Regions from separate parts of the Homo sapiens genome. Here regions 1 and 2 are each linked to region 3. Evidence: fine-mapped expression QTL. A gene starts in region 3. Each other region holds a variant in brackets. All regions are shown on one strand. Distances are between the middles of the regions.

The links. PIP is the estimated chance that this variant, and not a neighbour inherited with it, causes the effect.
Region 1: its variant is fine-mapped to the expression of ARL11 in whole blood (INTERVAL, PIP 0.98).
Region 2: its variant is fine-mapped to the expression of ARL11 in whole blood (TOPMed, PIP 0.99).

Annotation. Positions count from the first base shown.
Region 1 is chr13:49,577,391-49,585,561 of GRCh38, reverse strand. RCBTB1 (RCC1 and BTB domain containing protein 1) reads left to right here and starts at 4. Exons shown (of 13, transcript NM_018191.4): 1 at 4-118; 2 at 4,978-5,057. RefSeq lists a silencer at 1-480. The variant A/G (reference allele first, on the strand shown) is at 4,214.
Region 2 is chr13:50,595,517-50,603,687 of GRCh38, reverse strand. No RefSeq gene overlaps it. Among named protein-coding and RNA genes, the nearest start is that of DLEU1-AS1, 72 kb to the right of the region's middle. The variant T/C (reference allele first, on the strand shown) is at 4,031.
Region 3 is chr13:49,624,114-49,632,284 of GRCh38, reverse strand. ARL11 (ARF like GTPase 11) reads right to left here and starts at 3,778. Exons shown (of 2, transcript NM_138450.6): 1 at 3,670-3,778; 2 at 1-1,855. The coding sequence starts at 1,837. The coding sequence ends at 1,247. RefSeq lists an enhancer at 3,477-3,526.

The DNA.
Region 1 (8,171 bases), 47 kb after region 3:
GGCGCTCCTCCTCTTCGCTGCCGGTGGGCACCGCCGCTCGCTCGCACTTCTGCGCCCATTGGAGCTTCGGAGATCCCTGCGGTCCCGCGGGACGGCGCGGCAGCAGCTGACCTCGCAGGTAGCGTGTGGGCGCGGGGTCGAGCTCGCGGAGGCCTCTTCCCCCTCGGCCCTGCCCCTGCTTCCCTTCCCCGCAGGCCGGGCCGGGAGTGCCCCGTTACTCCTGTACCTCCCGCCTCCCTCGCTCGGGCTCCCGGGCAGTCCCTGCGGGCGCTGCGTCCGGGGCGAGGGATGGGGTCCCCGGCCCGGCCCCGCCAGCACCTCAGCTAATGTGCTCTCCTGCGAGGAGGAGGGAAGGATGGGGAGAGGCGAGGGAAAGTTTTCCCTGCCTCCCTCTCTTTTTTGAGGTGCACGGACTCGATTTTGCTCGTAGCTGAAGTCTGACTGCTGTGGGTGCCGTTTTACTGAGAGGAGATCTCCCCTCCGACTCTTCCTATTCTCTCTCCTTTCCAAGATCTTAGCATCTCTCCTTCGTCTCCTGAGAGTAGTGCTGTCACAAACCGTATTCTTTATCGTTTCCCTTTCCGACACAGAATCCACAAAGGCAGGGATTTTGTTAGTGAGGACTTTTATCCAGGCGTGCGGTGAACTCTAAATAAGTGACGTTTCCCTTGTCTGCCTCTGATAAAGTACCTACCTGCTCGGTTTAAGATGACTATCGAGCACGCTGTGTTCTGCTCGCATAAGTGGCCTTTTGTTTTTATTTATTTGCATGTAAGACACTTTCAAGCCATCTGCGGAACTCTGCAGCTGGGGATTACAATTTTATAAAGCAGTCTTGTAATAATGCTTTTAGAAAACCAGATTCATGATCTTCCTTGCTTTTGCCCTATTCTTTTTTTGGGAGGACTAAAAGCCCTTAGAGGACAAAAACTGAGTTTCTGAAACTGGTGTGTATTGTGGGCTAATAACATTAAAACATCAAAGTATATAATGCCGGAAGGAATGGAAAAATGATTGAATCCTGAGGGCAGTTTATAGGTGCTTTAAACTTTAGAGTACTCATTTCAAGTGAGCACTGGGTGAATTTCACCCGTTTAAACTGCTTTCAGGGTCGAGGATGTAACTGTATATTTGGATTCTATTAATATAACAGTTCATCTGTGGGATGGACTTTAATCCATTTAATCCATTGTGTGAATATCAGTCTATTTATTAATACTCTAGACGGGTCCTTTTTCTTCTACCCGCTAGTCTGTTTCTCTTGAAGAGGAAGCATATTCATCTTTAAAGAGATTTTTGCAAGTGATTTTTTTAAGTGTGTGATCCAAATGATAAAGTTCTGTGAACTTCAGAAAACAAGTAGCCATAAAAACCCAAAGCTGTCAAGCTTGTAGCTTTTAAAAAATGATTTGAAAATTTTAAAGCGTGCCCGTATGCTGCAGCAAGAACTTGGCTCCACCTAATATACGGGAGCTGGGAAGTCTGAAACAGTACCCTCCTTTTCCTGGGAGTCATTGTGGGGTAGATGAAACTGTGAAGGAAAGTGAGGACCTTTATTATGATGATGATATCCCTTCTGTGTGTACTACATTAAACAGTAAGTCATGCATAGGAAAGGAGGCTGGGGCCTCACAGAGTCTAGAATCTAGGCAGGGCATTCGGACACATTTCAAAATATTCTCTGGTTTTACAAAAAGTTAAAAATGTTACATATTGGCCAGGCGCAGTGGCTTACATCTGTAATCCCAGCATTTTGGGAGATTGAGGCGACAGATTACACGAGGCCAGGAGTTCAAGACCAGCTTGGCCAACATGGTGAAACCCCGTCTCTACTAAAAATACAAAAAATTAGCTGGGCGTGGTGGTGTGCGCCTGTAGTCCCAGCTACTCAGGAGGCTGAGGTACGAGAATTACCTGACCTGGGGAGGCAGAGGTTGCAGTGAGCCGAGATTGTGCCACTGCACTCCAGCCTGGGCGACACAGTGAGACTCCATCTCAAAAAAAAAAAGTACATGTTGTGTACGTGCTGAAGAATGCACAAGAGGGGTATGATGAGTGTTGTCTGAATTTAGCCAGAATAGACTTAGTAGAGGAGATCAGTTAATGAAATAATTATATAAGTCAACTGTGTGTTAGATCACATTTAAAACACACACACACACACACACACACACATACACAAAAGCACACTTCTTTCCTGGGGTAGAAAAGCTCACAGAGGAGACCAGATGGGTACCTCTAAAGACTTACGGTCTCCAGCTTTCTCTGGGCTTGGTCTTACCATCCTGCTAGGTTTCTCTGCTCAGTGCTCTTTCCCATCCTCCCTGGTGACTGCTTCAGACTTCACCATTTTACCCCCAATTGCTCCACTCCACTTTTTTCTTTTTGAGACAGGGTCTCACTATGTCGCCCAGTCTGGAGTACAGTGTGCCATGTGATCATAGCTCACTGCAGCCTCAAACTCCCAGGCTCAAGTGATCCTCCCCACTCCCAAGTAGCTGGGACCACAGGTGCGCACCACCACATTCGACTAATTTTTTTATTTTTTGTAGAGACAGGGTCTCCCTATGTTGCCCAGGCTGGTCTTGAACACCTAGCCTCAAGCAGTCCTCCCGCCTTGGCCTCCCAAAATGTTGGGATTACAGGCGTGAGCAACCACACCCGGCCTCCACTCCACTGTTTATTGCTACCTCCCCTCTTACTCTTAGCAAAAAGCCTAACTCTTTCTTCATAGGGGAAAAATAGGTGACCTCAGAAGAGAATGGTCTCCAAATGCCAATCAAAACCATGAGATACCACCTCCCATCCACTAGGATGGGTATAATACAAAAGACAGTAAATACTGGAGAAAGCAGCACTGTTGTACATTGCCGGTGGGCATGTAAAATGGAGACTCAGCGGGGAGAGAGAATGAGAATGAGAGAATGAGTATGTCTCCAGCATCTGGATTCCTAACCTTTAAACTGGCTTTCATTCACATTCACCCTTTCCTCCTCCTCTTGTGGAAGGAAGAAAAGGAAGACTTGCTCCTTTCTACAGTTTCTCTTGCATTTATTTATTTATTTATTTATTTAGAGACAGAATTTTGCTTTTGTTGCCCAGGCTGGAGTGCAGTGGTGTGATCTTGGCTCACTGCAACCTCCGTCTCCCGAGTTCAAGCGATTCTCCTGCCTCAGGGTCCTGAGTAGCTGCGATTACAGGCACCCACCACTATGCCCAGCTAATTTTTGTATTTTTAATAGAGATGGGGTTTCACCATGTTGGCCAGGCCGGTCTCGAACTCCTGACATCAGATGATCCACCTGCCTCGGCCTCCCAAAGTGCTGGGATTACAGGCATGAGCCACTGCGCCCGGCGCTTCTGTTGCACTTCTGCTTCAGATCCCATTCCCTGCTACTTTCTTAAGGCCCATTGAGTTGTTACATCCTCTCCTCTTTGATGTTTCTACTGGCTCCTTCCCATTAATTCAAACATGTTCAAGCCTCTAACAATGTTTACATTAAAAAGGTTAACAGAAAACGTCCTGCAACTCTATCACATTCTGTGATTACTATGCGATTTCTCATTTTTCCTTCAGAGTGAAATTTCTTGAACAAGTTGTTTATACTCATGGTTTCCTTTTCTTCACCTTTCACATACGCCTCAACCTGCTGCAACCTGGCCTCTTCCACCCACAACCTCAGTGAAACTGTTCTTGTTAAGGTCACTGATAATTCTCCTTGTTAAATCCAATGGAAGTTTCTCCACCCTTCCCTCGTTTGGTGTCTCAGCAGCATTCGACACTAGCATGCCTCTTGCCTGTGATGCTCAAGTCCCCAGATCTCTGTGACACTCTGTCTCCTGGTTTTCCTCCTGGTCTACCTCTTCCTTCACAGTCCCTTCTAGGGGGTACTCCCTGTCCCTTTCCCGTTGGAGTTTCTTAGAGTTCTTCTTAAGGTACTCTGCTCTCCTTATTTCACTTGCTTTTTTCCTGGGTGATTTCATGCCAGATTTCCAAATCTCCAATCCAGACCTTTCTTGAGCTTCAGATTTCTAAATCCATCTGTTGGGACTTGTCCACTTTAATATCCCACAGGTACCTGGCACAAATGTCCATAGTAGGACTCATCACCCCTGAGGCCTGCTGTGCTTTCTGCTGTAGTGAGTGGCAGCACAGTTCTCTCTCACTCAAGCTCAGCGTCTGCCTGTGATCTTCGGCTCTGCCTTTCTGCTT[A/G]TCCAGTGCTCCTTGTCCCATTCAGCCAGTTGCAGAATCTTCTTGATTTTCCTTCTTGTTCAATTTTCTCCATTTCCCTAGTGTGGGCTTCAATCCCTTCTTTTCTGGCTTACCATAGCCATCTGGACTTCCTCTAAGCACTCCTTTGTCGTCTCATGTCTCTGTGGTCAGCCAAAGTAATCTTTCATAGACCTACATCTGTTTATGCCACTTCCCTGCTTAAGACCCTTCAGGGATTACCTGGTGCTCTTAGGATAAAGCCTGAGTTGTTTGGCTGCAGCCATGCTGACTTTCTTTCAGTTCCTCCACCAGAGCCTTACCTGGCATGAGTGCTCACTGTTGCAGGCGCCTGCTTCTCTTTAGGTAGCTGAAGCATACTTCCCAATTCTGTTGCCTCCACAGCATCTGACCAGCCACACTGTTGTGAGCATCTGTTTATGTGTCTAGATCCCCCAACCCCATGTAATTTCTGTTGGTGTTGGCTCTGTGTCCTGTTTACCTAAGAAAATTTATTGAATTAATAGTGTATGGTTCTGCCAGTCCATTGCTGGAATTTCAGTTTGGCTTTAGGTCATTGCAGGGTACAGTTGATACTTTTCATACAACTGGGGACTAATAGATGAAATCACTTTTGGGGTATCCACATGAGAAAGATTCATGAAACCATATTTAGATTTGAATTTGACCCACCAATTCCAGCCTTGAATTCATTTGGAAAATAAAATGAAGTATTATGTTTTATCCATTTCTTTTTTCTTTTTCAGACAGGATCTTGCTCTCTTGCCCAGACTGGAATACAGTGGTGTGAACACGGCTCACTGCAGCCTCAACCTCCTGGACTCAGGTGATCCTCCCACCTCAGCCTCTTGAGTAGCTGGGACTAACTACAGGCGCACACCATTATGACTGGCTAATCTTTTTATTTTTAAGGAAATGGAGTCTCGCCATGTTGCCCAGGCTGGTCTTGAACTCCTGGGTTCAAGTGATCCTCCTGCCTTCGCCTCCTAAAATGCTGGGATTACAGGTGTGAGCCACTTCACCCAGCCATCTATCCATTTCTTTAAACTTTGACCCATCATTGGTTTTTTTGTTCTGTTTTGTGACACCTGTTTGTTTGGTTTAACAAAGAACAAACTTACAGAAAAAACATTATTTCTAATCATCGATATTTCTTTTCTGGTTTCCTTTTGAAAACAACAGTATCCTATAAAAGCAATACTTTTATAAGATCTCAGTCAGCTGCACAACCCTAGATATGTTATTTTTTTCACTGCTAATGCTATTGCCACTTGGTTCGTTTGCTTTTCGAGCACATGGCTGAGGTTAGAAGTGAGACGAGATGAAATGAATGAGATGAAAGCAGCCCCTTGGATGATGGGGCTAAAGAAATGCTTACAGAGGCCATTATTGCAAATTGTGCTTCAAGTCAAATAACTTATTAGTGGTTGGGAAATGACAGTTGTAGGAACTTACATTTTCCTCTAAAATTAGTGATGAATTTGAACAAAACTTATGAAACAAAGGGTAGGCACAATCAGAGAATTCTAAAACACTAGTCATACTGTTCTCTAAATGAAGGTGGGGGTATTATCTTCACTCACCTGTACAGGTGGCTTCAGCTTGAAGGATGACAAACTACTTTGGGAGAAGGCTACATTCTCAGACTCCTTAGTCAAGCATTCAGGGCATTCTTCCTTTCCCTTTCATTCTTTTTTTTTTTTTTTCTGAGACAAGTCTCGATCTGTCACCCAAACTGGAGTGCAGTGGCACCATCTCGGTTCACTGCAAGCTGTGCCTCCTGGGCTCACGCCATTCTCCTGCCTCAGCCTCCAGAGTAGCTGGGACTACAGGCGCCCACTACCAGGCCCGGCTAATTTTTTTGTATTTTTAGTAGAGACGGGGTTTCGCTGTGTTAGCCAGGATGGTCTTGATCTCCTGACCTCGTGATCCGCCTGCCTCGGCCTCCCAAAGTGCTGGGATTACAGGTGTGAGCCACCACGCCCGGCCTCCCTTTCATTCTTGTAGTACTGTGTGTTTGCAGAAGAGAGACGTGGATGACAGCTGTTCTAGCAGCTGGGGCAATAACATATTAGTGTCTCAGCACATCTTCGAAACTTTGCCTGTGATTTGCAGCCCTTATACCATAGAGTGGGTGAAATGGTTTTAAGTTTTATTTTTATTTAAAAATGTTTGAGGCTGATTCTTAGAGGCTTATCTGGACCTGGGAAATACATTTGGTATCTCAATGAGACAGCATTTGCTCAGTCTCAAAAAGCCCATCAGAATTATATGTAAGAAATTGGTAAGAGTAACATTTGGCTGTTTGTACCTTGAGAGGGTTTTTGAATTGCTTTTGCTGTAGCATAGATGGAAGACATTAAGTTGTAATGTTGTATACCAAAGTTTACCCCAAACCGTAGAGCTCTCTTATTTGAATGTTTTTCTGGAATTAAATGGATTCAGAAATAAAGATTGTCATACCCTTCAATCTTTTGTGCTCAAATGGAACATTTATTGCTAAAAAAGGAAGAAGGCTATGAAGAACACTTTGTTCTTCTAGGAAACTGGATGATCTTCACTGAGGAAAGGCTCACATTTTATCATCTGCTGGAATATGGAGAATTTGGTTTCTGGGATTTCGTGTAATTGTTTTCTGTTATATACAATTTTTATATAGTTGTCACTAGTTTGCACATAATTATTTCCTATTTGACATATTAACATGTGTCACATGGACCATATACTTGCATGATACATTCATTTCCTTAATTATTCCAGTTGTATTTGCATTCTAGTTTTCCACTTACTTAGGATCTGACTTTCCATTAGACCTTCAGTTCCTCAGAGGCAGAGACCATGATTGTATTCTTTATGATGTCCCTGGCATTGTTGGTATCTGGGGTCATTGCAGAAGAAGAATTAATGTATGCTATTAAAGTCAGCTCTCTGTATCCATGGATTCCACATCTGTGGATTCAACCAGCCTCAAATTGCAAATATTAAAAATTGCATTTGTACTGAACATGTAGAGTATTTTTTCTTGTCATTATTCCCCAAGCAATAAACGTTAACAACTATTTACCAAGCATTTACATTGTATTAGGTATTATAAGTAATCTGGAGATCATTTAAAGTATATGGGAGGATGTGTGTAGGTTATGTGCAAATACTATGCCATTTTCTATCAGGGACTTGAGCATCTGTGGATTTTAGTATCTGCAGGAGATCCTGGAACCGGTCCCCCACAGATACTGAGGGACAACTGGATTTTGTTCACATTAGCATACAATAGTACTTTTTTCCAAGGCCCTTTAGATTTTATCACTAGCTCATTAACTATAAATAAATTTTTTTCGTAAGACAGCTTAGCAACTTAAACTGATAAATAAAATCATCACCCATTCAGTTTACAAAAATAGAGAAACCTCTATTAGGAATTTTCAGTGTATGTGTAAATGCTTTAATTCAAAGTTTTTGCAATTAAAAATATCATTTTGCATATTAGAAGTTGCTGTTTTGAGTAGTTTAAAGCTTGCTGTAGCTTGTATGCTGAAGAATGTTTAGGCTACTTAAAATGATTGTTCCAACATTCAGAGCCCTTCCAGTTTCCTCTGGCTATCGGCTTCCATAATAAAGAATGACACAAACTCATTTCATGCTTCTAAAATGACACCAGAAGCGTCAGAATCTTGGTGCTCGCCAATGCTGAAGGATTGCTTACTCTTTTCCCACTCTTTTCCTTAGCTCTAAGGTCAGTAGAAGCCAGATCTAAAGGTAGAATACCCTATTGGTGGCATTTAAAAGCCAGTACATAACAGCAATTTAAACTAGCCCAAACAAATACATTCTGGTTAGTTGAGGTCTGTGTGGAAGCCATGTGCTTACAGATCAACCCTAAATTTCCACTGTTGTTTAATATTGAGAACATTATTTCATCAAAACCAGTTTTCCTGTACCA
Region 2 (8,171 bases), 970 kb before region 3:
AACAAATCATAGAAGAATTTCAAAAAGAGCAGTGCCACAGAGAAAATGAATGTGAACATATTCTCCAAAGAACAGCCATATCCCTAAAGAAAGAAAGCAGCTACTCATCATGATGCAAGCCTTCAAAATGTAGTTAATCAGACTGTGTGTGGTGGCTCATGTCTGTAATCCCAGCACTTTGGGAGGCTAAGGTGGGAGGATCACTTGACGCCGGGAGTTTGAAACCAGCCTGGGCAACATAGTAAGACCCTGTCTCTACAAAAAATAAAAAACAAAAATTAACCAAGCATGGTGGCACATGCCTATAGTTCCAGCTACTCAGGAGGCTGAGGTGGGAGGATCACTTGAGCCCAGGAGTTCAAGGCTGCTGTGAGTCTTGATCATGCCACTGCACTCCAGCTGGGGTGACAGAGCAAGACTTAGTCTCAAAAACTAACAAACAAAAAAGGTAATGATCGCGAAAGCTGGCCAGCTGCTATGTACCATCTCCTTGAAATTGCCCATAATCTATCCCTGTAATATACTTTTTCATATGTCAAACTTTTAAAAATTTTTTTAGGGCTTTTTTGTTTTTTCTTTTTGCTTTTCCTTTGTTTAATTTTTTTTTGACTTTTTAAAATTATCGGCACTATGTTTTACAATTCACTGTGTAGCGTATTACATCTCTGCATAATTTCCAACAATAGAGGTAAAGATGTTTAGAGACTTTAGAGTTTTAATTTGTTTCATGCATATTTTGCAAATTCAACTTTACAAAAGTGCATTATCGCAATATTGACTTTGTATGTAAGACTTGTGTGGCATGTAAAAACATGCACAATGTTTTTACATTAATTATCTCCTCAGTAAATGAAGAGACATCCTTTTAGTACATCTGTGTTTGTGAAAGATAAAACGTCTCAAGATCTTGGCTCTTTGAGCGATTGCATATGCAGTGGTGACCATCTCAGCTTTTGATTTCAGATGAACTCAGTTATGAAGCTGGGTACACGCCATTACCAACCATAATGATATGCATTTACACATTTTGCTTTTTGACCTATTTCTTTATGAATATGGCTCATCTACTAGTAACTGTTATATCCATGCTGCTATTGTTAGTGTACCTGTGCTTATGCTGGCAAAAATATGTATGTTATTATTGCGTATCTTATTGTGCAAAGTGGCCTATGAAGTTTTCTGTGGTGTTTCTACGTGTTTCTCAAGTTAGTTCCCCTTTAAAGTGTGAATAAATATATTTTAAGGAATATTTTAATATTTTTTTCCAGAACGATATTTTTAAGATTTCGATATTTTTGGGATTTCAACATTTGAGATTACAATGTTGGAGATTGTGTCTTTTGGGATTGTGATTGGCTCTCAGTGGAGAGAAGTCCTGCAGCTCTTAGCACCTTCATAGAGGCATCTTACAATGCCACCCTCATCTTCAGGGAGTTTGTCCTCCCTCACCTTTTATATTTTGAGCCTTAAAGTCTCTGTTTTTGCAGAATATTTGAGTAGCTTGATCACCTGGTTAAAACCCTCTCCCAGGCCAGGTGCAGTGGCTCATACCTGTAATCCCAGGGCTTTGGGAGGCCTAGGTGGGTGGATCACTTGAGGTCAGGAATTCGAGACCAGCCCAGTCCTGACCAACATGATGAAACCCCGTCTCTACTTAAAATACAAAAATTAGCCGGGCGTGGTGGTGGGCTCCTGTAATCCCACCTACTCTGGAGGCTGAGGCAGGAGAATCGCTTGAACTCGGGAGGTGGAGGTTGCAGTGAGCAGAGATTGCACCACTGCCCTCCAGCCTGGGCGACAGAGTAAGACCTTGTCTCAATAAAACAAAACAAAACAAAAAATAAAACCCTCTCCTAGCAGGCCTGGACACCTTCAGACAAATACATGAAAATAGTCTGTGTCTATTCCTCTGGGAGGCATTGGTTTTTACTGATTCTTACACAGCTTCCATAGCCTCGTTTGACTGTCTTCCACCATTTTGGGTTGATAATATTTATGTACAATTTTATTCTTTTATAAAACTTACAACTTGCTAATGTTTATTTTTCCAATTTAAAAAAGTAACACATATTCACTTTGGAAAATTTGGAAAACAGAGAACAAAGAAAAATAATAGTTTCCTGTAATCCCACTCTCACAGAGCACCACTTTTAATGTTTTGGTGTTATTTCTTTTCAGTCTTTATTCTCTGGATATAATATATGTTTAACTTAGTTGGAATCAATTTTATATCCAACTTATTTTTTTCATTTGACATGTTGTCATACATAGATGTATGGATATTCATTAACACAATGTTCTTGATCACTCTAGGTCAATATCTAGACCTATTGTAGCAATTCTATTGCTGCAATATGCAAAGAGATGTTCAAATAATACCTTGAAAACAGCATAACCTCTCTAGCTCTCAGGCTCTTCATCAATAAAATATAAAATACACAATGTTGATCTACAGGGTCCCCAATAAAATTCTTTAAAAATAGGATATGAATTTGGAGGGACATCCTTTCTACCAGGACTCTGCCACAGGGACCCTAACCATAAGCACCAAGGACTTGCCTAAAGAGTCCAAGAACAAAGCTCTTTGGTCCATCGTAGATATAGACCCAGCTGACATAAGAAACCAAGACTGGCATAATTTTGTTCTTGGTGAGTAAAGCCTGAGACAAGTGAACTATTTTCACCATGGAAACTCCAACTCCTGCCATTTCAGATGCCATATATTACATCTTTCTGGGATACTAGTTTCATGTTGTCATGAAAGGACAGTCAGGATAGTGTAGCATAGCTTGGAGTTTTCCTCTAAAAGGCTCATTTCCATATTGTTAGCTGTTTGTTGTTGTTTGGCTGGTTTCAGCAAGTCCCCCTGATTGTTTTGACTGTCCTTGTTTCATTTGGTTCCTGACTTTCAGCTCTATTTACTTAGCATTATATCCTCTTTATTTAGGCCACCTCCTACCCTAACCTTGTTTTGTCTTTTTGTCTTATTCCAAAAAGGCTTCAGAATCCTGACAAAACAATCATCTCTCACCAGGCCCTTTGCTCTGTGTAAGGCTGGAAAACAACTTCTGAGCAATCTCCTTTTCCTCTTTAGTAACAATAGACCTTTTCTGATTTTATGCAGAACTTGGGAAAATGTTTAATTTCAGAAATGCCTCAAAAGGAGTGGAGGAAGTGAATTTGGGACTTAACTCTTTCTTCCAAGGCTTAGAATCTTCAAGTTGTACCTACAAACCCCTGGAAATAATTTTACCTGAAAGCACACCATTTCTCCAGTAGTATAGTTAAACGTGGTGTCACTTTTATAAAAGCGCCCCAATATGAATTTTCAGTATAATTACTCAGTTTCGCTTTTGTGTTCACTCTTTCCTAGCAGGTTGAGAACAGATGACTTGAAAGAAAATGGTAGATACATAAGAACATATCTAGTTTCCAGGGGTGGTACTGGACCTTGGTAGATCAGATGGGGCCAAAATCTTTCCTCCACTAAAAGTGCTCTTTGGAATTAAACCGTCTCACCAGAAGGCCTTATTACAAAGCACACATGCTTGTCAGCAATCTGGTGAACTACATTCCTTCACCTGGGAGGCACAGATAACCATATGGCAAAGGACGAGGATAGATAGTATTTCTACTAGGAAAGAGACACAAACTTGGGAGAAATAATACCATCTATCAAAATTGCTTTTATAACAGTAGTAATTTAATGGTACATTTTCTTAGCTCCAGTTTACTTTGATGTATTGAAGATATCAATAATCATTGCACAGATTGTTTTTAAGATTAAAGGAACACATGTATTTAAAAAGACTGCCTCAGCACCTGATACATTATAGAAGTTTAATAAATAGTGGTTAATTAAAAAAAAAAAAAAAAGCACACATGCTGCAGGAGACAAGTAACAGGTGAGCACCTGGCATAGTTTGAGAGCAAACCAAGGTAAAAATGAAGACAGAGGAGAAGTGGGAGGGAGTCAGAGTACAGGAGCCAGCCTCAGGAGGATGAGCCCAGACTGGGCATCCCAGGAGTA[T/C]GCATGTCCAGGGTGCAAAACAAGAACTAAGTTCCAAGGGTGGTACTAGAAGGGCATGAGTCTGCAAGAGAGAAGGAGGAAGGGAGACCACTTCAGAAAGAAAGCCTCTCCAAATTCTGCTGGACAGATCCTGTTCTCTGAAATGACCTTTCCCTGCTAGACTCCATCTCTAATTATCAAAAGACTGAAAACATTGAGCTCTTTCAAGGAAAATTACTACATTCACTTTTTCTTGGAAAAATGTGTTTAGATTCTTTGCTTTCTGAGCCAGAATATTGTTTAAACGACAGGATGGGATGTACTCTCACCCCATTCTCTACATTTCTATCCCTTGGGAGCCAGATGCTAAATTGTTTCCAGCCAGTTAATAATGGTGTGGTCTTGAAGCTCCCAGGGGACCCAGAGGAAACCTGCCTCCATTTCTAAGGCTCTGTTCTATGTGTTGGTTGCTGGGTAGATTCAGGTTAGTCAAATAAAGGGAGGAAATAAAGCATAGAAGTGAATTCGTCCACCGTACACCCCAACAGGGCAAAGCCACGAAGTTACCACCTGTCGACAACATACTTTCTGCTCCCACCCACCTGCATGTAAATGCCTGAAATGTGCAGTCACCTTAGTGGAAATGTAAAGGCCAGGCTGAGCCAAATGATAGGACACTTGCTTTAAGAGAGCATTCCACATGGTGCCATTGATAATTTTTCTGTTAATTTGGTCACTGATGCCATTAACAGACACTGTCTGAGGACCTACTTGATGTAGGCAACATAGTAGGTGTTTCAGAAGACACAAGGATGAGTCGTCCAAGAGCTATGCCTTGAAGGAATGCCCAACATAAGGCTTAAGGCAAGGCATGAACACAAATACAATAACCTAAAATATGTTATTTTTGGTTAGTAAGTATGTAATAATAATAGCTGTCATATATCAGCCCCTCCCCCTGTGCCATGCAGCTCAGGAGCATTATTGCTGATCATTAACAGCCACCTTGCCAAGCACATCACACATGTTTCATCAAGCGTGTCACACGTTTTGCAGACAGGGAGGCTTAAGGTCAGAGAGATTAACTTACTTGCTCAAGGTCACATGGTTAGTGTGTGACAGAGCCAGGCTCTGAACTCTAAAGCATGGGCTCTTAACACACAACACAGTGACTCTGACCCATTTTTTCTCTGTGAGATGGTCGGAACAGGTGCCCATATCATGGCAGCTCAGAGCAAGGAGAGAGAGCCTCAAGCTAGAGGAACTGAGAAAGGCTTTGTGCTCTTGAGCTGAGTCTTGAAAGATTAATAGGCTTTAGATGTGAGGAGATGAGAGAGAGAGATGGGGTGGGATGGAGAGACCTGGGAGGAAAAGGAAGCATGGAAAAAAGATATCCATGGGGAAAGCCTGTGTGGGTAGAGAGGAATGATCACAAGGTACAGGAGGTGGAATGATTCGGAAGCTGCAGGGGCAGAAGGGCAAGGGATGGGAGCCTGGAACAGCGGACCAGGATTTGAGAATACATTTTTTAAAAGCAATTGAAAGTTTCTGAGAAGGGGAATGACCCAGTCAAAGCCCACATTGAGAATGGTGGTGGGCAGATGGAAGGCGGAGAGAGGGGGAGCAGGGATGAAGGCACTGCATCTCCTGGGGTGAAGACAGCCAGTGGCAGTGGGACTTGTAAGAAGGGGACAGCTGTGAAGGTATTGAAGGAAGTAGAATCCACCAGATCAACAGCCAACGTGAGAGGTAAAGAGAAGGGACAGAGGCCAAGGATCTTTTTGTGCCTGTCTAACAGGGAGGATAACTACTAAAGTAGCCTCTAAATACATTTAAGAAATTAGTAAATTAATTAATAAATTACTAAATTAGCCTCTAAATTGGCTCTTTTTAATCACTGGCAGCGTTGTTTCTCAGAATGTTTTGACCTGTGGGCAATTTAAGTGGACCCAAGACCCTATTTAATCTCTATACTCTTGCTTATTACAAAAAAAAAAAAAAAAAAAAAGAATGAAGCTGTATTTATGAGACAATGAAATACATAAAATTCTAAAAGTAACTCGTGTCAAAAGCAAAAGACTAGGCACTGGGAAAGCATTAAAAACACGTACAATATGGCAGCTCAGGACCACCTGGAGAAACCTAGAATCACTAGTGGGCCCACGCTCCCATTGGAGAGGCCCCAATATTTACTCTGAGGCGAGTTGAGGTTGGTGGCAGTTAACACAAATTGAGTGCCACCATGTGCCACGTTTCGTTCTAAATGCAAATTCCTTTCCTGACCTATGTCCCCATCACCTACATCAGCTCCCCAGCCTCCTCTCTGAAGCCTCCCTACCCCACCTCATCCCAGAGGATCTTGCATGTAAGGCAAAGTGTTCTTTCCCACTTTATTTAAGCCAAGAGAGACACAGGCCCACACCAATCAGTGACCTCCCTGCTATTAGCTCTTGCCTGTGTTCCTCTGTGCATTGGTGAAGGAAGAAGCCCTGGGTCCCTATCTTATGATGTCCCAGCCTTTCCTTTGCCTGCACCAGCTCACAGTGGAGCCAAGCAGGGCTGTAAGTCTAGCAGACCCCTCACTGGAGTTGAGTAATTTGCAACCTTGCCCTGATTTAATCTGCAATCCAATTTGCTACTTACTCTCCCCAAGCTCTTATCAACGGTTTACATTTCCATGTGCCTTTTCTGTGCTGTATATCTGTGTTTTCAATTATGTCAGCCCAGGTGAATTAGCCTTCCATTGTTCAAGGTCAAACCTCAAGTTGTTATTTCCTGCCTATACAGCTAGTCCCTTTCCCCTCTATCCCTCTGGGGCAGTTTCTCAATTGTCGCTGGTGTTCCCAGATCCTATCTCCATCAGGTTTCATCTGTGAATTTAATTATGAAGCTATGCCCTATTTGGCTTATTTCACTCCATGGTCCAAACGTTTATTATGCATCCATTCTCCACAGGCACCCTGGTTCCACAGATATGCTAGGCATGCCCTCCGCAGCCATATGAAAATGAAAAGTTAGGAGTCCCAAAAAGGAACTAAATGCGCCTAATTTTGTTCATATTGTTGAGTCCCTTCACCTGACCAGCAAACCCTTTGATCCTGCACTTAGGCGCTTCCATGGCCACAGAGGGCTCTTCTAGCACAGGGATTGTACAGTTGTTAAAGCAAAAAGAAGGCAGAAAAGGCTAATCCAGAGCAACTCTTGAAAGCAGCCCCAAGGAGTCTTCCAGAAAAGCCTTGGTCTGCCTTCCTCCCAGGGGCTCAGCTCCAGCTGCACTTTACCTCTGCAGGTGGAGGCTCCCAGCAAGGCTCTGCTGAGGGCACTGCTGTGGCTCCCCTGCTCACACTTGGGGTCCTGTGGCTGAGTCTAGCCTTTCTTCCTCCTGCACACTGCCTGCCCCATCGCTTTGACAGAGGGGAGCCCCTCAAGTGCATCTTTGGAGGGGACAAGACACTGCTTGATATCCTGAAACATAAAGAGGCAGCATGCATCACTCAGCCACATAGCCCACATGTCACTTCTATCAGTGAAGCCTTTCAGTTTCCACCCTTGTGCTCCTGGCAAATGTGATGGCCCCGATGGCTCTTTGCTCAGTGTGATGGCCCCAGGCACCCTTTGCTCATCTTATGTTCACTTAAGTGGCTGACTGTCCCACGAGTAGAAGCCGGGAGCAGGAGCCACAGTATCTCAGTGATCTTTGTGTCCTCCACCTCTTACCTAGAACATAAGAGGTCCTCGGTAAGTTTATCAAATGACTCCCTGAACAAATGCACATTAGGGAATGTAAATCTTCTTTTCAGATACTGCTCTTGTCTCATCCACCAGTTGCCTTTAAGCAAGTCATTGGTTTTCAATTTGTGTGTGTGTGTGTGAACAAAAAGCTTCTTCACACCAAGTCTTACTTGGAAGACCCTGGCCCCCCAATATATAACATGATAATAGTGAAGTTCATCTTGTTCACATAAAATGGGGAGGCCGTGGGAGCCTCAGTACCACCCACTTGCCATCCCCTCAGCTAAAATCCTCCACATATATAAGTTCTTTTACTTTTCTCTGACTCAAGCCAAATCTTTCTCCCCTCGTGGCAGCTTCTCTCTGATCATCCCAGCCACGGGGGCCCTGCCCGTTTCTGAACTCCTAGGAGTCCTACTGTGTACTCTTG
Region 3 (8,171 bases):
CGAAAGCTCAGTGTTTTTGCCACAAACTAAATGCTCTGTTTTTTTTGTTAAATTAATGAATAAATAAAATATTTTATTGATCTGATCTTTAACGAAAGATATGTGCTACAAGAAGGAGAAAAGAGAAGGAAAAAAAAGAAAATGAGTTTTTGAAAAAGATCAACACAAGATGTCATAAAATCGGGAGAGGCTAATTAGCATCAGAAAAAAAACAAGGATAAATTTTGGATGGTGTGAACTTCCAGCCTCTTGCCCAGGGGTGAGCGTCCCAGGGCAGGGAACGTCTAACCTGCAGACCCCTGCTGTTGTATGGGCCCTGCCTAGCTTGCCCTTCTGAGTGACAGTGGCACATCCCCAGGGGCCACTGGGGAAAATCACTCATAAGGATCCGCGATCCATTGTGACATGTCCAGATGATATTTGAATTTGACTTTTTTTTTTCTTTTTGGAGACACAGCCTGTCTTTTTCACCCAGGCTGGAGTGCAGCAGCACAATCTCGGCTCACTGCAACCTCCACTTCCTGGGTTCAAGCGATTCTTCTGCCTCAACCTCCTGAGTAGCTGGGACTGCAGGCGTGCACCACTATGCCTAATTTTTGTATTTTCAGTAGAGATGGGGTTTCACCATGTTGGCCAGGCTGGTCTTGAACTCCTAGCCTCAAGTAATCTGCCCTCCTCCGCCCATGAGCCACTGCACCTGGCCTCAAATTTGATTTTAAAACCTCTTTCCCTATTTGAGAATTTAGGTCTCTATTATTATGCAACCAGTGGCTACTCTATTATGACATATTGCTTCATTCACACTTGGTAACGAGCTATTAAATGAAGTATGTTGAGATTTTTTTCTTAGAGTATCATCATTATTATTATTATTATTATTGAGACAGGGTCTCACTCTGTTGCCCAGACTGGAGTGCAGTGGCGCGATCTTGGCTCACTGCAACCTCTACCTCTTGGGCTCAAGCGATTCTCCTGCCTCAGCCTCCCAAGTAGCTGGGACTACAGGCACATGCCACCATGCCCGGCCAATTTTTTGATTATTAGTAGAAATGGGGTGTTGTGATGTTGCTCTCCAACTCCTGGGCTCAAGGGATTCCCCCACCGTGGTCTCCCACAGTGCTGGGATTACAGGCATGAGCCACCGGGCCAAGCCAGCATTTCTTGTTTGATAGACTAAGCGTAAATTTCTCAAGGATCAGCTGGTTCTTCTAGTTTGTATGAGCAAAGATATGCTGCTCTGTCTGGATCAAGATCTCTTGCTGTCTCCGCGCTCAGCCCCATGGGCTCTCGCCTGCAGACACATGCAGCTGCGAGATTTCAGGAGGCTCCACAGGCTCTGCAGGGCCTCGGGCAGCCCCTCCCCAGTGAGGGCACTGCAGCCCCGGAGCTCCCAGCAGTGGTCCTGGAATCTCTCTAGACTCAGCCTGTTTCTGATCTTAAGCAGCGGAAGTGCATCAGGTGCCTCCTGCTTGTTGGCCAGCACCAAGAAGGGGACGCCAGCCATGTTGGGGTCGTTCAGGACTTCTGTGAGCTCAGCCGCCGACTCGGGTAAGCGGGCTTCATCTGTGCTGTCCAGCACGTACACGAGGATATCTGTGCCTTCCAGATAGTCCTTCCAGCTGGCTCTGAGCGGGGCCTGCCCCCCAACGTCCCAGAGAGTCAGTGACACGTGCCCAGGAGCTTTCAGAGGCTCCACGTTGAAACCAACAGTGGGCAGGGTCTCCACCAGCTGGTGGCCCTTCAGCTTGTAAAGGAGCGTGGTCTTGCCCGCCGAGTCCAGGCCCATCATCACCACCTGGGCTTCCGCCTTGTGACCTCTGGAATTCACAGAACCCATGGTGGCCACTGCTGAATCCTAGGGGAGAAAGGCCAGGGCACACATCAGCTACTGTCTTCTGAAGGAAGACAAATCCATCCTGGTGCAGTGGCTCACACCTGTAATCCCAGCACTGTGGGAGGCCAAGGCAGGAGGATCACTTGAGCCCAGGAGTTTCAAACAAGCCGAGGCAACAAAGCAAGGACCCGCCTTCTCTACAAAAATTGAAATTAAAAATGGAGCACAAATCTGTGCAGGCAAACAACGGAAGAGTTTTTCCAAAACAGGAAAAGTCTTCACAGGGTCAGATTTTAAACAGATGCCTGGGCTTTGAAGGAAGTGAGGATGTGTGAGTCACCATCAGCTAACCTGTCTCTGGGTCAGATAAGAGTGGTCCCTGAGCAGAGAAGATCAGGGGCCTCCTGGAAGACATTCCTGAGGAGTTAAAGCAAAGAGGCAAAATGAAGTTCCAGTCAGACAGAGCTGGTTCAGTAGAAATTACAGAACGATGTCTTCAATTCTTGCTGGTCTGTGGCTTCTAACCTCTTCTCCTCCTATAAGCCTAAATGCTGAAATGGAAGCTAAGCTGGGTTCCATGCACAGAGTGAGAAGGATGGTTCAGCTCACGGTGACCTCTCTTTAGAGCTTCCCAAGGACCAGTACTATGTCTTGGAAACACAGTGAGGTGTCACTTAATGACGGGGACACATTCTGAGAAATGCTTCATTAGGCAATTTCATCATTTTACAAAATCATAGATTGTAATTACACAAACGTGGATGGTCTAGTCTACTCCACACCTAGGCTATATGGTATGGCCCATTGCTCCTGGGCTACACACCGGTACAGCATTCCTGTAATGGGTACTGTAGGCTATTGTAACACAGTGCTAAGTATTCGTGTATCTAAACATAGAAAAGGTAGTGGTTGCACCACAACACTAAGCTGAAAAATAGGAATTTTTCAGCTCTGTTATAATCTTATGGGACCACCGTTGTATATGTGGTCTGTCGTTGACTGAAATGTCTTCATGCAGTGCCTGACTGGGGCTATTTATAAATACTGTTTACTGGGGGCAAATTTATGAGTCAGAGCAAAGCAGTTTCCTCCACTGTCTTACCAAGGTCAATGACTTCTACAACACTCCACATGTGCTTTTTTGTTTGTTTTTGGGTTTTTTTGTTTTGTTTTGTTTTGTTTTGTTTTGAGACAGGGTCTCACTCTGTCGCCCAGGCTGGACTGCAGTGGCATGATCACAGCTCACTGCAGCCTCGACTTCCCAGGCTCAAGCCATCCTCCCACCTCAGCCTCCCCAGTAGCTGGGACTATGGGCATGTGCCATCACACATTTTTGTTGTTGTTTTGAGACAGGGTCTCACTGTGTCACCCAGACTGGAGTGCAGTGGTGCAATCTTGGCTCATCACAACCTCTGCCTCCCTGCAACCTCCGCCTCCTAGGTTCAAGGGATTCTCCTGCCTCAGCCTCCCGAGTACCTGGGATTACAGCTACTACTACCACCCAGCTACTTTTTGTATTTATATTAGAGACGAGGTTTCACCATGTTGGCCTGGCTGGTATTGAACTCCTGACCTCAAATTATCCACCTGCCCGGCCTCCCAAAGTGCTGGGATTACAGGCGTGAGCCACTGTGCCCAGCCACATATGTTTTTAAAGAATCCCAAATTTTAAGACATAAGACCTGTTCCCAACTTAGACGATGCCTGCGTGGAACAGAGAAGAGACATCTCAACTTCCGGGAATGGGGGTGGGGGGATATGAGCTGCCTCTGGAAGGAGGTAAGCCTCTACTCATCCCTACTCCCAAGGGTAGAAAAGTAAAAAGTTAAAATTACCTCTGTGTTACTATTAGACTGCAGCTGTGAGATCCTGCGTGGCTCTCCTCCCCTATGGAGCTGCTTTCTGCTGGCCAGGCATGACCCAAGAGCGAGATGGGAAGGAAGCAGAGCAGCCGTTGCTGCTTCTCCTTTTTGTGCTTCCTTTTCCCAGGTGGCTGGGGGGCGGGGCTGGTGTCACGGCCCCTCCCTCAGCCCTAGGGCGCCTCAGAGCAGTCATCTTGCTGGGCTTGCCACAGAGAGGTCCCCGGCTCTGCAGGTCCTGGCAGAGCAAGGCCCAGTGACAGCTCCATTTTTTAGCAACTCAGACTTGGGTGCCTGAAGGAGGGAGCACGAGCTCGGAGCTGTGTCCAAGCGCAGCCGCCTTCTCTCTTCCCTCAGGATCCTCTGAGCTCCTCGCAGAGAATTCTGACCTCTTCCTTTCAGTACATGCCTCAAGGTTTTTCTGGTGGCTAGAGATTCTCTGATTTGCTTGGAATCACACATGGTTTGTTGTTGTTGTTGTTGTTGTTTTGTTTTGTTTTCTATTTGAGACCGAGTCTTGCTCTGTCGCCCAGGCTGGACAGCAGCCTCCGCCTCCAGGGCTCAAGCGATCCTCCCTCCTCAACCTCCTAAGCAAGTGGGATTATAGGCAGGTGCCACCATGCCCAGCTGATTTTTGTATTTTTCATAAAGACAGGTTTCACCATGATGGCCAGGCTGCACATGTGTTCTTTTAAAAGCTGCCTATGGCCAGGCGTGGTGGCTCAGGCCTGTAATCCCAACATTTTGGGGGGCTGAGGTGGGTGGATCACGAGGTCAGGAGTTCGAGACCAGCCTGGCTAACATGGTGAAACCCCGTCTCTACTAAAAATACAAAAATTAGCTGGGCGTGGTGGCACCTACCTGTAGGCCCAGCTATTTGGGAGGCTGAGGCAGGAGAATGGCATGAACCCGGGAGGCGGAGGTTGCAGTGAGCCCAGATCACACCACTGCACTCCAGCCTTGGTGACAGAGCGAGACTCTGCCTCAAAACAAAAACAAAAACAAAAAACAAAAAAAGCTGTCTACATATGATGAAAACATTCTTTAAAAGGTATGTATGATGCAGATCAACCTTTAAAATTGTGTTAATGTAGTGATTAAAGTTACCGTTCAATTTTTTCTTGAATGGTGTCACTGTGTTTTTCCCAGTAAAAATGACACCTCTAGAAAATGTAATTTTTAAAAAATTGGCTAGTCGCCGGGCATGGGGGCTCATGCCTGTAATCCCAGCACTTTGGGAGGCCAAGGCAGGAGGATCGCTCAAGCTCAGGAGTTCAAGACCAGCCTGGCCAATATGGTGAAACCACGTCTCTACAAAAAATAATAAATTAACCAGGCATGGTGATGTGTGCCTGTAGTTCCAGGTACTTGGGAGATTGAGGCCCAAGAACTGCATGAGCCCAGGAGGTGGAGGCTGCAGTGAGCTGAGATCACAGCACTGCACTCCAGCCTAGAAGACAGAGTGAGACTCTGTCTCTCTCCTATTTTTTTTTTTTAATTGAGATGGAGTCTCGCTCTGGCGCCCAGGCTGGAGTGCAATGGCACAATCTCGGCTCACTGCAACCTCCGCCTCCTAGGTTCAAGCAATTCTCCCACCTCAGCCTCCCGAGTACCTGGGATTACAGGCACGTGCTACCATGCCTGGATAATTTTTTTATTTTCAGTAGAGACAGGGTTTTGCCATGTTGGCCAGGCTGGTCTCCAGCTTCTAATCTCGAGTGATCTGCCCGCCTCGGCCTCCCAAAGAGCTGGGATTACAGGTGTGAGCCACTGCACCCAGCCGAGACTCTGTCTCAAAAAAAAAAAGAAAAAAAGAAAAAAAATTGACTAGTCAGAAACCACTGATTCAGTAGGTATTGAATTTGGATATGGAGTCACAGTGATTTAGCTCTTATAACCAGTAATCTTTGTGCTGTTTTCTGCTTTCCCATGCATTATTTCATTAAAATATCAAGACTCAAGTTGGATGTTATGACTCTTCCATTTTACAAGAAAAGAAGCAGGCTCGGTTGGAAGGCCGAGGCGGGCAGATCACAAGGTCAAGAAATCGAGACCATCCTGGCCAACATGGTGAAACCCCATCTCTACTAAAAATACAAAAATTAGCTGGGCATGGTGGCGCACACTTGTAGTCCCAGCTACTCGGGTGGCTGAGGCAGGAGAATCGCTTGAACCCGGAAGGCGGAGGTTGCAGTGAGCTGAGATCGCGCCACTGCACTCCAGCCTGGTGACAGAGCAAGACTCTGTCTCAAAAAAAAAAAAAAAGAAGCAGGCTGGGACAGGGTGAATCATTGACTCATGATCTTGCTGCGTTTTATAATTCATCTCTTTCTCTTTTACCATGTCATGCTACTCACACAGAAAGTGCCTTGTAAATGGCAAACACCAGATTGTTGTTGTCATTGTTTTTGTTAAGCTACTGTATTTTAGCAGGAAGAACTGATTAGGAAAAGTCAGAAACTCAAAGTGTGTTATGTGCACCACTGTGTGAGGGTATTGATGCTGCTCTTGGTTTGCTCTTTTCAGTGCCTGTGGTCAGTGATCATCCTTTTTCAAGGCCAGGGGGTGTGTGGGGAGGAGACAGAAACAGATAGAGTGCTCCTGGGGGTGGAATTATCCCAGGGAAGTCTCAGAGCAATAAAGAATCGTCTGGTGGAGGGCTTGTCATTCTCGCCCAAACTGCAGCGGGATCGGCTCACGCTGGGACTAAGTCCTGTCCGGGCCCAGCTGCTGAGTCAGCAGGAATCCTGCAAGGGCCCGATTTGCAGGAAGATTGGGGCCGGACGAGGATGACAGCAGGCCAAGGTTGAGGGGCTCCTGGGGGTGGGGGAGCTGGGGTGCTGCTCTGACCCAGTTCCCAGAGCAGCACCAGGGCTAGGTTTGGGCCCCATGGAGGCAGGGAGGGAGCAGAAGCTGTAGAAGCATTAGCACAGTGGCTTGGAGGCACCATGCCAGGCTGCCTGGGTGACCTATGCCCTGGGTGACACAGAGAGAGAAGGGACACTCCCCTTGGCCTCTAGCCTGGAGCTTGGGGCCACATGGCCAGGCTGCAGGCTGCCTCTGGAGGTAGCTGCGTGGCACTGACCACAGAATCTGAGACAGGCACCGCCATCAAGGGGCCGGCTGGCAGTCAGGGGTGGATCTGTGAGCACTGCTGGGGGGCACAGGCTCCCCCAGACATCAAGGAGCCTTGCCTGAGGGCCAAAGTCTTGTGTTCGCTGGGAAACCATGATTACTTTGTGACCCCAGTTCTGCCCAAAGGCCCTTGTGGCCTGAGTTTCTCTGTACAGCCCCGACCCTGACCCCTTCAGCTCAACCAGCAGGGAAGCTTTTCATTAGACACCCCAACGTGGGGAGGCTCACGAGGGCTACTGCCCCGGGAGGCAGCGCAGAGCAGAAGGTAACAGTGTGGCTTTGATTTGGGTCCACCTGGGGGCACACTTGGCCTCCACTGCTTATTTGCTGTGAACCTCAACCTGAATTTCTCTGCACCTCAGTTTCCTTCTCTATAAAATGAGGTTGATGACGATAATAATGGTACCTAACTTGAAGGGTTATTGGAAGGATTTAATAAGTGAAGACACATCAAGTACTTAGCCCAAAGCCTGGCGTCTAGTCCCAGACTAGTTCTGTTAGAGAAGGACAGGAGAGCCCTCAAACGTAGTGGTGTGGCTGGAGAAAGTGACGCTGGTGAATGTGCAAGCCCCAGCACCTTTGTGTGTCTGTGACTGCAGCTTCCAGACCTGGAATAAGGAAAAGGGGCTACACGGGGCTCACTGATACCAGGAGAGACAAAGGTCTTAGGCCCCATCTCTACTGCCCTAAGAGTGTGAGTTTAGAAATGTCCTCCTGCCAACTCTCATACAGGTGGTCAGGCCTGGAGGAGCACGGCACGCCCATTGCACTCACCAAAAAATAACTTGTAAGCCAGGATGCTTCTTCTGATGTTTCTTATGGGATCTGTTTGACCCAAGAGCTGGGGCGGTTTTCTGTGCAGCACAGCTAAGGGAAGGCAGGGGGCCAGGGGCACGCAGAGGACACACACAGGGACTGAAGGAGTCAACTGTAGGGACGACATCCAAATGGGTTGCTGGAAGACCATGGAAAGTTGGTGGTTTTTAAGGGGTTGTTTATCATGCAACAGAGCCTCGTGGTCACTTTTCTGCTCTCTACAGATAGGTCCAAAGGAGGAGAGTGCTAGAACAAGAGCTTTATTCTCCTGGAAAGTGCTAGAGAAACATGGACGGAGTCTCTTGTCCAGCCCTCCTTTCCCTGGGCTCCATAACGGCCCCCACCTTTTTATCTTGTTGTGACCTCCTCTTGCTCTGGTCTCTCACTTTCTCAACTTGCAATATGCAAATTAATAACTTTTTTCCAGGGACTGCCTCTTTTAAAAATCAAATTCTATTTCTTTCTATTTTCAAGCCATCCATACAAAATTCTGAAGGTACAAAAGAGTAGAGCATCAAGGACGTTCT